Homo sapiens: one gene and its partner. The protein of the gene in region 2 interacts with the protein of the main gene of each other region in a pairwise test. Each region holds a gene or a part of one and is shown on either strand. Other genes may lie near its edges.

Region 1 (3,241 bases), on a different chromosome or scaffold from region 2:
GAGGAGGAAAATACTTGGGTGGAATGAAAACTAGCGGCTTTACTTTATACAGTTGTTCAAGATATTGTTACTTGAACTCCAGACTAAAATTATGGATAGAGTATTAGTCCAATTTGAAAATATTCCTGTTTAATACCACTGGGTTCTCAAACCATTAACAACCACTGGAACAACAGGAAACAGTTCCTTAATAATTTTTGCCTTTTAAAGTCCCAAATAAAGAAGTTCTCTCTGCCACGCATATCTTCTCAAGTAACTGAGATCAACGTTTGGTAGGTTTCATTCTGCAGTATTTTTCTTTATATAGTACATTTTGCAATATTTTTCTTTAGTATCTTTAGACATATTTAAAACTTGGAGATTCATACAGTCCCTGAGGATCCTAATTAACTACATGGAATTCAAAAATTCTTAAAAAATTTATTATCTTTATTTAAAAAAAAATTACACACACACACACATGCATACACACAGGATTGGAAATTTTTTTTTTTTTTTAGAATACTAACACCATCTTTTATTTTTCCAAATTCCTACAGTCTTATGCCACTTGACTCCTAGTTAACCAGGATATAAATGTATAATCTTTTCATATCATAGGTACCACTATCATTTCATCAATTTCCTGAAGTAAATTGAGTGAAATCATAAGCACACACTTAAGAGTCAGTATTTATTCTGATTAATATTTTACAAAATTTTGACATTTAATTTATGTAAGGAGGGCTAATTTATTAAACACTTTACAGGTTTTTCTTTCCACAGAATAACACGGTAAGTAGCAAAATAATACTTGGCACAGTTATAAATAAAGAAAATATAAAATAAAAACATCCATAGCTTAAGTACAATGATGCTGTTTTACGCCCATTAATATCAAATAAATTCCTGGAAACAACAAAAATATGAATGAAAAAAAACTCCAAGGAAGTAATTCATGTTCAGTGCTGAGAATTAAGTTCCTATTTGCTAAAAGTATCCAATTAAGTTGATAAGAACTATTCCCAAAGGTTCACCATCATACACAACTTTAGAACTGGGTTTATAGTTGGTTCCACACACAGGACCTACAAAATAATTAAACAGATGGTATACTGCTGCATAGCTGGCTCCTGACCATCTGACCATTTCTGAGTTATAGATTTCACAGGTACTACAAGATGGTTACTACAAAAGCATTCACATTGCTAGTATTTTCCATGTAATTACACATCTAGAGGTTTGTCTTTTTAACTGAATGACATCTCTTTTGCACTGAAAATATTGTACCACAAACAAAGAAGATGGTAACAACATTCTTAGCCAAACTCTGAAAAAACCACCATAGTCTTTAACTGTTGATAAAAATGTATTCGATAAAAATGCAACTGAGTCTTCATGTGAAGTGGCTCAAAATACAAAAAATTAAAACAAATTCTAGCATTTTATAAATAACTTTGAATTTAAAAATTATCTAAAATTTCCCCCAATTAGTAGTCAAAACTAGCTGACATTTGTAAAGTTAACCAATTTTTACATTCTATGACAAAATGGCACAATGCTATTGCCACCCCACACCCATCTCTTCCCTTTTCAAAAATAAAGTACATATGCCAATTTTCTAATATTAAAACACATACACTAAGGGTAATCTTTTTTTGATGTGTGACTTATGGTCAAATAAGCTACTATATAAAAATGGTACTTGGAAATACTGAACATCAACTATATACATTTCACTGCTCCTCTTACTAAGGCAAGGGGCGGGTATACCACTAGATTGCTTTAATACCTGTAATCTGCATTTTACAGGGAAGACTAGTTTTACCAAGCATCAGACATGCAGTGAACTTGCAGGGTATAATGCCTATTAACAGCAATTTTGAACATCACTAGAAGCTCATTAGTTATCTCCCTTTTCTTTTTGGTTGGACAAAATGAAATGAGCAGCTTTAAAAACACTAACACAGACACAAAGAGAAAACTATTTGATAAATTATTTATATACAGATACACATTCTTTACATTGGTCTAGGATCTGTCATCAGTCTGACCACCATTCCCCCACATCTCCCACCCCATTCCCTCTCACAGATTTCCCACAGGTTGCTCGAACCACAGTTTGCTACAGCACTTAAGATGAATAAACCAAATCTCACCCTGTAAACAATATTTATGGAAGCAGTGACTAGTAGTCCACCATGAAGGTATGAAAATGCTGTGACAAAAATTGATCAGTGCATCACATTTAACAAAAAGAAAATTTTTTCTAAAACTGTTTCAGAACTTACTCAATATTGGATAAACTGAAATACTCTTGGGGATGAAATTCTACTTTCTGATAGGTCATTTTATTGAAACCAGAATATACTGTCAGCTTTTCTTTTATTCACATGTGCTATGTACTTAGATCATGCTCCATCTTTAGTTAAATGCCATTATTTTGTCTACAATTATTTTGCAGCTGAGAATTTAAAAGGAAGTATATCCATGTATCACTATTACTGAGAATTTTGCATTATTTGTTCTGCCTTTTCTTGAAAATACCACCTTAACCCTTAAAAATGGAACTGTTTTTGAACATCAAATTAAATTCTAATTTATGCTTCACTGGATAGTATCTGCTAGTATACATTCTATGTGGTGTGTCATGCAATTAGCAGGGCTTTTAAATTTGAACAAAAAAACATGACTTACTATACTCATGCAAGTGCTTCATTATCAGACCGTAAAACCTCAGAGTAAGGTTACTACAAATTATTTCACTGAACTAGAAATATATCAGCATTGCAACAGCTGATAGAAACAAAACATTGTTAGCACATTTTATTGTGAACATTATTTTCTCCTGCCTTTGAAGACAACATCACAGTAGATCCCAATCACATGATTTTCATCACAGTATTTATGTGTACATTCTGAAATGTACATAATAACTAGTCAATCAACTTAAAACAATGCTCCTGGAATTAGATGCAATACTCGTACTAGACTGCATCATAACATTTAGCCAAATAACATAAATTTAGTTTTAGTTAAAACTGAACATTTCTGATCAGTACACCATGTCTGTCAATAGAATAAGTTTACCCTTTTTTTGTGAAAAATACTGTGAGAACAAAACCCAAAAGTTGAGTATGTTGTGAATTTCCACATTAAGAACCATTAAAATTATTTTTTATCATCTTTACTCTTCCCAGAAATGGCAGTGTGTTCTGTCCATGTTTACTTTTGTTAATAAAAGTGTTGAAAAAAAGACTGT
Region 2 (3,072 bases):
GACCAGGTAGGTGTCCTGTTTAAGACTTGGAAATGAAGGCTTGGAATCTTCTAGGGTTCCATCTCCAGCCATGGCCACCCAACAAAGAGTCTACAAGCAGGCTAAGTTTTGGCCTGAGTGACTCCTCATCATCTCATGTCCCCCCAGACCCTAGAGCAGCAGGCAGCTTGGGCTAAGACAGACGGCCCATTGTTCAAGTCCTGACTCTTCTGTCACTTAAGCTCCATGGCCTTCCCCTCTCTGATCCCCAGTTGGCTCACCAGTTACTGGGAGGTTAATCCCTCCCTCCCTAAGCAGAAGCAGATGATTTATGCTGGGTCATGGAGCAGGCTCCTCCTAGGCCTCTACAGCAGATAACCCAGATGGAGCTCATCACCACACGTGCAGAGAAAGCCACGGTGTGAGAAGGTTGGGCACCTGAGCCAGGGCCTTCGGACAGCCCTCTGCCTGAGATGCAGCTCACTCCCGTCCCAGAACAGTCCCCCCACCGGAAGCCCCCACCACCTCAGCGGAAACAGGCAGCCGGACAGAAAGCAGGTTTTCATGCCAATAATTTATTGAACGGAGGTCTGTACACAGGCAAACCTTACTGTGGAAACTAAGACATCAGGAGCTCTCTCCACTCCCCTGGCCCTCCAGGGTGGGGTGAGGAGGGAGTAGACCTTGGGGGCAGAGGACAGGAGGGGAGTTACAGCTGTAGGAGGGGCGGGGCCAGGTTGGACGGTGCGAATCGACGTTTTCTTTAAGAAAAAAATTATAACAATCTATTTACACCCGGGGGCCAGGGAAGGGAAGAGGAGACGGGCTGGGCTGGTTCTATTTACAAGGGACACAGGAGGGGAGGGGGTCTGGAGGAGGTGGAGGTCTGGGGGAGGGGAGGGGGCCAAGGGGGTAGGAGGTCCTCATCCCCCCAACACCCTGTCCTTCTCTTCCCTCCCCACAACCAGTTAAAATCCTCTTAAAAAGCCCACCACAGGGGTGAGGCTGGTGAGGGAGGGACTGGAGGTGGGGACAGGGACTCATTTACCTCTGCCCTCTAGTCTAGGGGCCCAGCCAGGGCAGGAGCTTGATGGGCTATGGCCCCCCTTCCCAGCCCCTCTTGGGGCTCCCAGATGGAAGTGGAAGGGTGCTTGGTGGGGCCCTCAGGAGGAGTTAGTGAGGGTAGGTGTGGCATCGGTCGACTGCCAGTCTGAGCTGGTCGGAGTCTCAGTTAAAGCTGGAGGGAGGCAGGGAAGGAGCAGAGTTAGCCTTTGCCTTTCAGACACCCCTTCGCCCAACCCAAAAGTAGGAATTCTCTTGTCATAGATGCTACATTAAAAGTTACAAGCTGTTACTTTAGGTGAAGGGTTGCAAACTCAAGTGCTAAAGGGCCACGATAGTAACTGAGTGACACACCAGAGTGCCAGGCTCCATATAAGGCGGTGGCTGGGCTGGGCACAGTGGCTCACGCCTGTAATCCCAGCACTTTGGGAGGCTGAGGTGGGCAGATCACAAGGTCAGCAGTTCGAGACCAGCCTGGCCAACATGGTGAAACTCCATGTCTACTCAAAATACAAAAATAAGCCAGGCATGGTGGTATGAGCGTGTAATCCCAGGTACTTAGGAGGCTGAGGCAGGAGAATCACTTGAACCCAGGAGGCAGAAGTTGGAGTGAGCCGGGATTGTGCCACTGCACTCCAGCCTGGGTGACAGAAAAAGACTCCGTCTAAAAAATATAAAGGGCGCCCACTGTCTACTGTCAGTAGGATGGGCGGGCCCATTGCTGCCCAATCTGATTTTCTTCCCCAAGAGAAACAGGAAATCTGAATTTTTACATAAAATAGCCCCATTTTTAAACGTGGACACCATGGCCAGGCACAGCGGTTCACGCCTGTAATCCCAACACTTTAGGAGGCCAAGCGGGAAAATCACCTGAAGTTCAAGACCAGTCTGGCCAACATGGTGAAACCTCATCTCTAGTAAAAATACAAAAATTAGCCAGGCGTAGTGGTGTGTGTCTGTAATCCCAGCTACTCGGAGGCTGAGGCAGGAGAATTGCCTGAGCCCAGGAGGCGGAGATTGCAGTGAGCCGAGATCGAGCCACTGCACTGCAGCCTGGGTGGCGAGTGAAACTCTATTGCACAAAAAAAAAAAAAACAAACTTGGGCAACGAATTCAACTTTTTGTTTGTGTTCAGGCCAGACGTTATTTCTCTGGCTTTCCCATTGGCATTAAACACATTTAAACATTTGTACGCAAGAATACCCTCTAAAGGTGGTCATTCACATGTTGTAAGATGTGTTTCCTATGCCATCAAAATGTCGATGATTTAAAAATACATTCAGGAAACCCAGTCACTGAGCGAACAGCCCCACCCTCTCCAGGCTGAGAGATACTTTAACCCCCAGCAGATGGTCCCCACTTACCTTGTGAGGACGGGGTGAGGGTGGTAGTGCCCGCTGGGGACCTCAAGTGAGGAGGGATGAGAATGGCGTTGAGAGACGGTTGGATGGAGAGTTCTAGAAACAGGAATTGACATGCTAGTCAGGGTAGACTACAGCAGGGTTATGATGGGCACCAAATGGGAACCCAGCTATTGGGAAGGCCAGTTGTTTGTGGACACCTTCAGCCACAGACCTCTCTCAATGAAAAACCAGAAAAAGCTTAGCACAAGGCAGATCACAGTAAAGCACAACTGAAGCAGGTTCGATTCCCCCTGAATCTGGGAGTCATCTTTCCTGAGCCCCAGGCCTGCCTTGTACCCTGCCCTTAGCTCCCCACTCCTGCTTCAACACCAAGCTCCTCACAATCTTTGGCTGCCCCCCTACCCCGCCCCACTCCCCAGATCCCAGGCTATGCCCTCACCACCAGCACTGAAGTTGAAGAGAGGGGGAAGTGGGCGGTTGTTAGGCAGCTGGGTTCCCAGACATCGCAGTTCATCAAAGAAGCTGTGCGCACAGGCCTCTAGTGGGGAGAGCCTTGAGGATGGGGTGTACTCCAGCAGGCTAGAGCAGAGCGCGATGGCCTCTGGCGGCGTTCGAGATTTGAACACCTGAGGGATGGGTGCAGGGCTCATGAGGGTGAGATGCCCTG

Evidence for each region. The genes of interacting proteins can lie anywhere in the genome.
Region 1: the proteins of GSK3A (region 2) and ZDHHC17 interact in binary tests that used the Homo sapiens proteins (3 or more experiments, as listed by UniProt).

Annotation. Positions count from the first base shown.
Region 1 is NC_000012.12:76,851,115-76,854,355, reverse strand, and holds the end of ZDHHC17 (palmitoyltransferase ZDHHC17), read right to left. Parts: 3' UTR 660-3,241; downstream 1-659. UniProt on the Homo sapiens protein: Palmitoyltransferase that catalyzes the addition of palmitate onto various protein substrates and is involved in a variety of cellular processes.
Region 2 is NC_000019.10:42,229,652-42,232,723, forward strand, and holds the end of GSK3A (glycogen synthase kinase-3 alpha), read right to left. Parts: intron 3,032-3,072; coding exon 2,845-3,031; intron 2,499-2,844; coding exon 2,406-2,498; intron 1,217-2,405; coding exon 1,143-1,216; 3' UTR 539-1,142; downstream 1-538. UniProt on the Homo sapiens protein: Constitutively active protein kinase that acts as a negative regulator in the hormonal control of glucose homeostasis, Wnt signaling and regulation of transcription factors and microtubules, by phosphorylating and inactivating glycogen synthase (GYS1 or GYS2), CTNNB1/beta-catenin, APC and AXIN1.